Linked DNA regions of Homo sapiens: region 2 is linked to region 1. Evidence: fine-mapped expression QTL. A gene starts in region 1. The other region holds a variant in brackets. All regions are shown on one strand. Distances are from middle to middle. Region 1 holds the start of B3GNT5 (UDP-GlcNAc:betaGal beta-1,3-N-acetylglucosaminyltransferase 5). Region 2 overlaps MCF2L2 (MCF.2 cell line derived transforming sequence-like 2).

Region 1 (5,376 bases):
CAATTGGGCCTCAGAAAGAACTGGACCCTTTACAATGTGAAAGTCACCAAGTGCAATGATTCTAGCCAAAGTGACCCATTTTAAAAGATGACCCATTTCAAAACCCATGAGTTATTATTCAAGCTGTTCTATTTTTGAGAATTAGAAAGTTTTCTTTTTCTTTTTTTTTTTTTTTACAATCTCACCATTTGAATGTCTTTTATGAAAAGAGAAAACTGATCACCATTTTAATGAAATACAATGTTTCATTTTTTACTTGATGGGGCCTGCACTTTATTTTGAAAACTCTTCTGCACCTTCTGAGTTTTCTCTGGGCAGAGCAGTTATAAGCATCTCTACCTCCTACTCATCCTCATCTCCCACTTTCTCAGGAACAGCTGCTCTGAGCTTTGGCTTGGGCCTTTCCTGTGATAACACTGGTTCTACCTTAGAGCCTTGCAGGGCCGGGAAGGGTCAGCCTGAGTCAGCCTCCTCCTCAGAGTGCTCAGTCAATGCTCAGAGCGTGTGCGGGAGGATAAGGAAGAGTGAGAAGGACAAGCAGGTTAAGTACAGAATGGAAACCTTTCTGGTATTGCGTTTAGCTTGCTTTAAAAGCAAAGAGTTGGCCCCAAAAAGCAGCTTTCACCTCCTCACTTGTGACCAGATAGAAAATCTACCATAAATTTATTTTGAGAAAGTTATAACGTCTGCTGCTGATCACTAATCACCCTTTCAGAAAGTTCAGGGTGGAATCATTTCGGTGCCACCACTTAATACAACTACCTTCAATCATCCTTTTCTGGGTCAACTTCGGCTTTTCACATTCCTCTCCCATCCCCCACAGGGAACAGGCAAGGTTTCCCAAAATAAAGGCACAGACGCACAAATCCAATTCTGATGGATGTACTTTCATCAGATAATTACCATAAATATGAGCCTCAGGCCACCATCGGCCACTGTGCGGTTACCACATCGGTGTACCTTTAACATGATCCATAACCTAAGAAAACCAACACCGGCCAAGAATGTACAGGGTGTAGTCAAGAGTCGAGTTGAAAACTGTTACTTTTACCTATATGGTATCCAAGCAAGCAATTGCCTCTGTCACATCAGGATTCAAAATGAAATGAGGCAGAGTCAAAGGAAAGAGTGGCCACGACCTCCCCGCCAGGGAGATCTGCGGCTGCAGTCTCCCCGCCTGCCCACTTCCCTGTCCCCATTTCCCCCGCCAGTAACTCGCCGAAAGCGTTCTCAGGTTGGCGGTTTCTTCTTTCCAGCCCGACACGGGCTTTCGACTCGAATTCAGCCCTCCAGCCGGAGGCGGGTGGCCGCAAGCCTGGGGCCCCCGGCCGGCAACCGAATTGGTGGGCGCGGCGTTCGCCTCGCGGCTCCCGCGCACGGGCCTGTCCCGCCACCGAGGAGCCGGAGCTCCTCAGGGACGGGGACCCGCAGGCCCCGGGAAGCCGCCCCAACCGGAGCTGCCCGGCCCCCGAGCCTACCTGCCGCACCTGGGCGGCGGCCCGGCCTGGGTCCCAGCCGCTGGCCACCCGCGCGGGCAGGCCGGAGGGAACAAAGGCGTTCCGGGGAGGGGACGAGCCTCCTTCTCCGCCGCGCTTTCAGAGGGCGGGCTGCCGGGGCCCGCGGTGGGAGAGGCCTCCCCGGCTTCCCGACTTCCCGGCGCTGGGCCGTGCGCGGTCCGGGCCAGGGCGGCGGGCCCCGATCCGGTGTCCACGCCAGCCACGCGCCCCCGGCCCAAGCGCGCGTTCCCACCTGAAGTCCTGGCGCCACCCGCCGGGCGAGGGCCGGCGTGCCCTCACCTCCTCGCCACTCTTCTCCTCCAGAGACCTCGCTCGGCCCGGAGTGGGCAGACTCGGAGCCTCCCGCGCCGGAGACCGCGAGCCGCTCGGCCGAGGAGGCGCGGCGGGGCGGGGGCGGGGCGGAGGGGCCGGCCCGCAGCCCCCAATGCCGGGAGCCCGCGCTGGAGACCCAGGGAGCCCAGCTCGGGGCCGCGGCACGGAGAACGAACCATCCGTGGCCTGGAGACGTATCCCGCCGAGCGGCCAGAACTTTCCCCATTTAGCGATCCGGAAAGGAAGCCAACACTCCCACCCAGAGAGGCCTCGGCCGCGGAAAGATGCGGCCGCGGCACAGCCGTGTTTTCACCACGTAACTGACCACAGACTAACTCCGCGCGGAACCACCGGCCCAGGGCGCTCCGCCAAGAGGCGGACTGTGCTGGCCTCGCGGGCCCTACGCCCAGGGAACGCCGCGGTTCCTCCCACACGGGACACCGGTTCCGCAGCGCCGCGGATTAGGATGGTCTTTTACTTTCCGAGCGGGAGCTCTAACGCAGGCTCAGGCGGGTCTTGTTAAAAGGTTTCTGGTCACACCACTTATGCGTGGAGCTCTGGGGGCCTCAGTAACAAAGTAAGGAAACTTACAGCAAACTAGGGCTGCACTGCCGCTGTCCGTTTCTAAAATACGAGAAGAGGGGGAAACCCCGCCCCAGGCCAGCTTCCCAGTGACTTTACCTCCAAGTCCAGCTTCATTTCAAGGGCAGTTTAGAGCGAAACTCACGAAGTTCAAGCCCAGCTCTTTAAATGTCCAAATCGGAGGTCGGCTTTCCTTCCCGCATCGGAGCTAAAGTCGCTGGTCTCAAGAACAAAACTTGCGGGCTTTAAATCTTGGGCGAGGACTGGACGGGCAGCGCTGGACTGGGCTCGCTTCCCCGGCGGGATGCGGGCTGTATGCGGGCGGGATGGGGGCGGGCCCGGGCGGGGGCGCGAGGCTCCCAGCCGCGCGCCCCGCACTCTCGGCGTCACGGCCCGAGCCCGGCCCCGCCCGCCAGCCGCCACCCTCCCGGCGCGTAGGTGAAGGTGATGGGCCCCGCCCCAGTTTGTTCTTGTCTGTAGATGAGAATTCCAGGAAGTGTTTCCCTGCCGCTCGTCAGTTAATTGCGATCACTTACTCAAATGGCCAACTGGAAGCCAGAGTGCACATGAATGTCCTCTTTGAGCTATTTTCCTCCTTTAGAATACTTCATGCAGGTAACCAGACAATATCGAGAGATGCGGACTTCTACTCAACGAGAGAGATTATAAATGAATCCTGGATGCGCTTGATTTCTTGTTTCCCGCATGTTGTTAGACCTCTCCCTAAAGCCACAAAACATTTAACGGAGATAATATTTTGAGCGATTCTGTTATTGTACATATTTCAGAACATGACAGAAAAGCAAAAGATTAACCCAAATACTTTAGTAAAATAAAAGCTTTGAGTTTGTCGTAAAAGGAACAAGACAGGTAATGAGTTAAATGTATGATTGTCGAATCAGGGTTTAAAACAGTGGGGCCAGCAGACACGGTGGCTCACACCTGTAATCCCATCACTTTGGGAGGCTGAGCCGCAGGAGGATTGCTTGATCCCAGGAGTTAGAGACCAGCGTGGCCAACATAGCAAGACCCCATCTCTAAAAGAAAAAACACACACACAAAATGAAAACTGTTGTTCATTCAAACTAGATTTTTAGGAAGTTTTTAAATTGCTTTCCTTAAGCTGGTCAGCATCTTTTAAATCATGCAGTTCTTTTCATATGCTGCCTACACAGGGCATGGCTCAGCATCTCCCAGACTGTGGCACTGCATGTTCATCAGACCACAGACAGAAATATTTACATGTGTGATTTGCAAAGGAGTCATTGACAGTGACCCACAAATAAGCTGATTCATTGTTAATACAGCACTAATGACATACCTTCTCTAATAAAATGCTGACTGAAATCCCACATGCATTTCCCCCAGCCATCACATGTGTATGTTGTATATCTGTGCAAATATTCAATTACAATTATATTCCTTTCAGATCATTTGGAGCTAGGTCCATGTGTCAGTATACATATGTTCCACATACATGAGCACATAGAACTGTACCCACGAGAAATACAAACTGACCAAAACAGTGGTAGACACACATACAAATCACATATTCACATCATACTAGATACAGATAAACACACCAGATAGATAAATGGTTTCAAAAGTATGTCTGGAGATTGGAAATACGATGCAAGTTTTTTGGTGGTAGGAGGGAGAGATGAGAGGGTGTGAAGGAGAGATAGGCAAGGTCAAGTAGTCCAGAATGCCCACTCTGGGATCCACACAAGCTCAGATCACACATGCGAGAGGACAGGCAAGTCCCCTTTGCTTGTTAGGGAAGATTTCCTAGAGCAGCCTGGCTTCCTGTCCCACCCAGAGAGAGGGGAAGAGAATGACAGATTTGATGGTATTGATGGTGCTATGCTCAGTTACTTTTATCAAGAGGGAGTGCATGAAGATATTGAGATGTGTTAGAAATAAACTTAGGTAATAATAATGATGCTGACTTGGCCAGCATGAAGAAGGAGGACCGTGTTGGCATGCTTTCCTTATCCAAGTAGCAGCTGGTAAGCAGAGAGCCCTGTGATTAGATCTATACATGACTTTGGAATGACCAAAATCTGCATGTTAGACTCGGCAGGGATAGATAAGGCACAGAAAGAGCAGAGGAGTAGCAGATTTAGGAGAGATGATCAGAGAGTAAGGCACATGCATCATTAGTAGTGGGGAGGGGAGACTAAACCCTGAGTACAAGAGAACCTGGGAGATGGTGGGAGCAACAGGGGCCCAAGGAAGAGGCCTGTGTTACTAAAATCATGAAAGGAGAAGCAGGTCTGATAACCGAGTGGCTTAACACAGCTGAAGTGTAGCAGCAGTATCAGGCTTGACCTGTTTAGCGAAATTTGTCTTTCTGGATTCTGTTAGACCAGATTTCCTCACAGGCCCTATAGGGAACCTGTCCAGTGAATCTGTGAATTCAAACACATCACGGGCCATGTATTCTGAAGCAGGCCGGTGTTCATTCAAGGCCTGGGCTGTTAGAGAGACTCTGGTTGTTTCCTGACCTGGCTTCCTACACAGGATCTCTGGCAAGTTAGCAAACTTCTCTGTGCCCACAGTAATACCTGCCTGCAAGGGTGGGTGAGGATTAGTGCAATCGCAGTGACGGGTGGAGTGCTGAGCTCAGAGCCTGGGCTATCCCAATGGGCGGATGAATGGTCAGCATCCTTGAGCCCATCACAGGTTGCAGAAAGCTCCTCTCACCTGGCAGAGGTAGGCTCATGCTGTGTCCTGTCATCGTGCTGTAAAGGATCTGCTGTGTTTCACACCTCTGGGAATTTCACATCTGTTGATACAGCATCACCATTCAGACGATGCCCTATCTCCTTGGCTCCGCCGCCTCTTTCTCTGCCCCCCGGCCACCTCCCACCACACGCAGCCTTCCTTGGTGTTCTCTTCTCCGCACACATGCTCCTTGCTGATCTCACCCATTGTCTTTAATCTTGACTTACATTTCTTTCTT
Region 2 (5,376 bases), 40 kb after region 1:
CAGCTATATAGCTGAATTCTATATGTTTCTTATGTAGCAGGAATATAATTTCCATGATTTATGAACTTCATTCGTCACTAGTACAATGCACAGAGGTAGATGATTTTGCTTGTCTCTATGCCGTATACCTAAATCAGTAAGCATCTTTAGCCACCATGCTTTGGGAGCAGGGAGACAGATCAATATCCACCCTTCTCAGTCAGGGTTGGCTGGATCCCTGGCTCCTCATCTCTGTCCTGTTTTCCTTCTTCACTTTGCAGATGGTATACTTTTGATTTCCAACAAGGCATTTGTTTTCCACAGGATGGGCCAAAGAGAACCAAAGATTCAGCATTCTCAACTGAACTACAACAAGCTTTGGCAGTGATAGAGGATTTGATCAAGTCCTGTGAGTTGGCTGTGGACCTAGCAGCAGTGACTGAATGTCCGGTATGTTCCATAGTAGTGTTAGAGCATCTCACACAAAAGGCAGGTGCAATACTACACAGTGAGGAAATGCTCTGGCAAAGTCAGAGAGATCGTCTATGGTAAAGGAATTGGACTCTGAGGACAGTCGCCTAAATTGCTCAGTAAACCCGCACTACAAGATTCCAAGCTGTCCCTTGGCATCTTCAGGAATCTTGGATTTATTCCTCAGGGTTCTGAATGTGGGACTGACCCACTGTCTGGACAAACCAGAAAGTCAAGGGCCAGAACATATATGGGCAGAGGAAAAGTCCTGGAGGAGCAATTTATTTTCTAACTCATGGCACTATTAAAATAGTAAAAGATTTGTCTTCTTGTTTCAGAGTTTCTCTAAGAAAAGTATTTTGGAAACAGGTCCTATATTCTTGCCCCAATTTTATATCACAGATCCCAGAAGAGGCCCCAAAAGTATATAGTGTACATGCATTAATCCAAATAGTCTAAAGAAAACCCAAGAGATGCAGTTAGAGGCCAATGCTGGGGAGTTGAGCTCCAGCGTCAGTGTTAATCCGGAGCAGGCTGGTCCCAGGCATTCCAGGCAAAACATCCCCTATAACTGTATGATCTCTTTGAGACTGGAGCATAGTTAATATTCGACTTGTTTTGTTTTTTACTTTGAAGTACTCTAGATTTTTATTCAGATGTGTTTGTTTTATTTCACTGTCATAATAAATTACCATAAGCTTGGTGGCTTAGAGCAGCACAAATTCATTATTATTATTATTTTGAAGTTCCAAGGTCAGAAGTTCAACACAGTCTCATGGGCTAAAATCAAGGTGTTTCCTTTCCTTTTTGGAGTCTAGCATCTGTCTCCTGGAATTTTCCAGCTTAAAAAGGCCACCCACGCTCCATGGCTCATGGCTTCTATGAGCAGAGGTAATAAAGCACAAACCAGCAATGGCAGGTTGGGTTCTTCTTCTTTTTGTTTGTTTGTTTTTGAGACAGAGTCTTGCTCTGTCGCCCAGGCTGGAGTGTAATGGCATGATCTCAGCTCACTGCAACCTCTGCCCGCCAGGTTCAAGCGATTCTCCTGTCCCAGCCTCCTGAGTAGCTGGGACTACAGGCACTTGCCACCACACCTTGCTAATTTTTTTTTTTTTTTGTATTTTTAGTAGAGACGGGGCTTCTCCATGTTGGTCAGGCTGGTCTCGAACTCCTGACCTCGTGATCCACCCATCTCCGCCTCCCAAAGTGCTGGGATTACAGGTGAGAGCCATCGTGCCCGGCCAAGTTTTTCTTACATCACATCTCTGTGACCCCCTCTTCTGCGTTTTTGTCACTTGTGATTATATTATACTTTTTCCTTCTCTTTTTTTTTCTTTTCATTTTTATTTGGTTTTGAACATACCATGTATTGAGGTCTTGGTAGAGGAAATGACTTTTCTTTCCTTGTCATAAATCAAACCATGAAAGTTATTAAGGTCCGAAAAATGAGTTATTTTTACTTCCCACGCTGGTATTTCTTGGGCCTGGATCTCAGAAACTTAGCCCCATGGGGTTTGCTGTGATCCCAGCCATGATGCTGTTACTGTCCCCTGGGACTCCAAGGTGTCTCTGATGACAACTGATGCATGATTCAAGAGGATATGCATAAACTGCAGAGTAGGGTTAGGGTGTGTATAAGGATCATTTTCTTGGTAATAATTCTTCTTTCTTCGCCTGAGGAAAGTCAAGGGAACAATTTGTTAGGTCAATCCAGGGCATCTTTCTGTTCCTTTTTAAATCTTGAATTACGTATTAGACATCCCTATTAAATTTCATTTCCCTGAATCTAATGAATGTCCTGGAAACAATACACAGGGCAGGAAACAGTGTAAATAACATAGGAGGAGGAGGCTGTGAGAAAAGAATGGTTAAAACATGAGCAAATAACATTCTGCCCTAATTTCATTCCCAGCCAGTTTGCATGCAAATAGGATGAA[C/T]CAGCTTACAGAATTTGGAGATTTTACACGCAAAAAGCAAAGGACCTTTTTTGACCATGTGTCCTCAGAATTGTGCCTCTGCCAGATGCTTTTTGGTACCTTTTCTACTAAGACTTAACTTACTTTTACATCTAATACATCAGCTAATTTCTCCTGACAGTTTTGTATAATCCTGTTGAATTATGGAGGAGTAGATATTGGAATTTTCAACCTTCTGATTCAAAAGAAGATCCATGGAAAGAAGAGTTAACTCACTCAAGATTACATGGCTGTCACCTTGGACTATTTCTTGTTCATTCCCTATCAGGGTGCTATTCCACTCTTTATCTGTTTCTGATTAGAATTGACTGACAACTGCCTCTAACTCAGCTCAAATGATTCTGAGATTCTTTGTCTCCATTTTGTAGAGTTTTATTACAGGTGTTTATGATCACCTGTAATAAATTACAGCTATATGCATGGCTGAGTCCAGTTTAACCTCTTAGTTTCTCTGCTTGAAATTTAATATTAACCTGGTTTTATAAAGGAAAGAAATTGAATGTGATAATTAAATTATCACAATTAAACAACTAGAAAGCAACTAGAAAAAAATCCCTTCTGATATTTATATTTTCTTGTTTTTCTGTGTACTCAATTAGTCCTGGGTCTAATTTAATCACAGAAGTTTAAAATTCTTTTCCAAACAAGTTTGTTTTGTGGAACACTGAGTTATAATTTACTTCTATCTATTTGCAAAAAAAAAACAAAAGTTTTTTTTTTTTTCAAATCCAATGCATATTAGAGATGCATTTAAATTCTGACTTGCCAGGGATAAGTTCCAAAGTTGACTTGTAAAGATTGAATGAAACAGTCTTCCTTTTTGGAACAAATTTATATAAACCACTAAAGGATGTACTTGTATTGTAAGTTCATTGTGAGCTAGGGCCAGGATTTTATTTCTATTTCAGTTTCCTCTTTCCTTACCACAGTGTTAGCTGCAGAGATAGGGCTAAGTAAATAATCCTAGTGACCCAGGCAAAGTATCTTCTTCATTCCCCACCCCCCCACCCCCCCCACCCCCCCACAATACCTATATTACAGGCGGTTGCCGGGAGTAAGTGAGAATTAAATGATGGGTAAGGCACCAAGCACTGTGCCTGGCGCCCAACAGATGCCGAATAAACAGCCCTAGTGGTACGTTATATGGGGACCTGCTCAAGCTGGAAAGGAAGATACCTCTTTGCCCCTGACTATTGTAATCACAGGCTCCCACAGCTTCTGCTTTTCATTTCTGGACTCAGGCTCTGTGTGGACGCATTTATACAGATGTTTCCTGCTTCTTTGTGCAGTAAGTTTGTGACAGTCATATTAACTCTTACTACCTGGAATGGAAACACGGGCACCCAAAAGAAGCTCTTGCTGAGGCCAGCTTCCCTAGATTCACTCTCTCAGCCAGACTCTTCATTTGGCCAATGTAGTCACATTTGAAATCCTTGTATCGGGGCTCTTACCTGCAGAATGCCCAGGTGTGAAAGTGGTAGCATTTACTAATTGATTTTGCTATCACTTCTTGTACAGAGGAGGCCATCTAACTTATCGCTCGCTCATTTGAGGTAGCCGCTATGTTCCATCTCTGAGTTCACAACCATCAGGTTCTTCCACACACCGTGTGACATGGCCACACTTCTTTGTTACTGGTGGAAAACAGTTGGAAGTATATTCGTTTCCTAGGGCTGATGTCGCAAGGAACCACAAAGTACGTGACTTAAAACAACAGAAATTTATTCCCTCACAGTTTTGACGGCTAGACGTCCAAAGGCAAGGTGAGAGCAGGCCCACGTTCCCTCTGAGGGCTCTCAGGAAGAATCCTTCCTTACCTCGTCTGAGCTTCTGGTGACTGCCGGCAATTCTTGGAGTTCCTTGGCTGACAGCTGTGCCACTCCAATTTCTGCCTCTGCCTTTGCATGGCTGTTCCCTCAGCGTGCGTCTCCATTTCTTTGTTTTCTTTTTTTATAAGGATACCAGTCATTGGATTTGGACCCATCCTAACCCAGGGCAACCCCATCTTAACCAATTGTATCTGCAAAGACCCTCTTTCCGAATAAGATCATATTTTGAGGGTCTCATAGACATGAGTTTTTGGGGGAACACTATTCAACCCAGTACAGGGGCGTCGCTGAATGAACTCCTTGGATAAATCAATATTCCCTCACAGTGATGAGTATTTTGTTTCCTGTCCCCTACTCCCAAGCACCACTAAATGCCAATAAATAAATAAATACTAGGGAATGCCAATAAATAAATAAATACTGGTGAACACGTATCTGAAAGAGGTTGTGCAACGTGGTCTCCGACCTTGAGATCAACTACAGTCTAGTTGGAAAGAAAAGGTACACGTGACGGAAAAGGTCATTCTTGCTCCTGCTCAGGGAATGTCCCTGCAGCTTCCTGTTGGAGGCGGAGCAGCTCCACACAGCACAGTGAACAGTGTGTGTGCCTGCCCTTGGTCAGCACCGTGTAGGGCATGTGCTCACCCGCTGGAGATCGGACCTTGGGCGTGGAGATGGGCAATACCGTCATATGTGTGGTCCTGAGAACATTTGTGCAACATGACCCAGAGGATATGTGCCCATATGTTTCTGCCAGACTTGAAAGACCCAGCGACTCCCCCCGAGTCACTTCCAGTAATAATGGGCTTACTGGAAAGCTGACCTGCAGCTTCTCAAGAAGTCACGATGGCAAAGCCAAGTTCGCGGAGATGGGAACTGAGCAAACCCAGGATCCACAGCACCTCTGGGGCCTGGGCCTGGGGAGGGAGCCGGGGTTCTTACCTGTGTGACCCGCCTGTATATGTCAAGTGCACCCACATGCCTGCTCGCCCCCCCTCTTACCACCTACTGACTGTTTTTTTCCCTTCCGTCAGTTTCTTCCTCTTCCTCATAATTTCTAATGACTCACCTTCTTCATAGTTCTGTTTCCTTCTCGTTTATTCCACTGCCTGCTTTCCCCT

The links.
Region 2: its variant is fine-mapped to the expression of B3GNT5 in fibroblasts (GTEx, PIP above 0.99).

Annotation. Positions count from the first base shown.
Region 1 is chr3:183,250,607-183,255,982 of GRCh38, reverse strand. B3GNT5 (UDP-GlcNAc:betaGal beta-1,3-N-acetylglucosaminyltransferase 5) reads right to left here and starts at 2,730. Exons shown (of 2, transcript NM_032047.5): 1 at 2,511-2,730. All of the region lies in intron 15 of MCF2L2 (MCF.2 cell line derived transforming sequence-like 2), which reads left to right. LOC124906310 (a long non-coding RNA gene) reads right to left here. Exons shown (of 3, transcript XR_007096189.1): 2 at 5,118-5,199; 3 at 3,428-3,448.
Region 2 is chr3:183,211,022-183,216,397 of GRCh38, reverse strand. MCF2L2 (MCF.2 cell line derived transforming sequence-like 2) reads left to right here. Exons shown (of 30, transcript NM_015078.4): 22 at 304-429. Among named protein-coding and RNA genes, the nearest start is that of B3GNT5, 40 kb to the left of the region's middle. The variant C/T (reference allele first, on the strand shown) is at 2,388.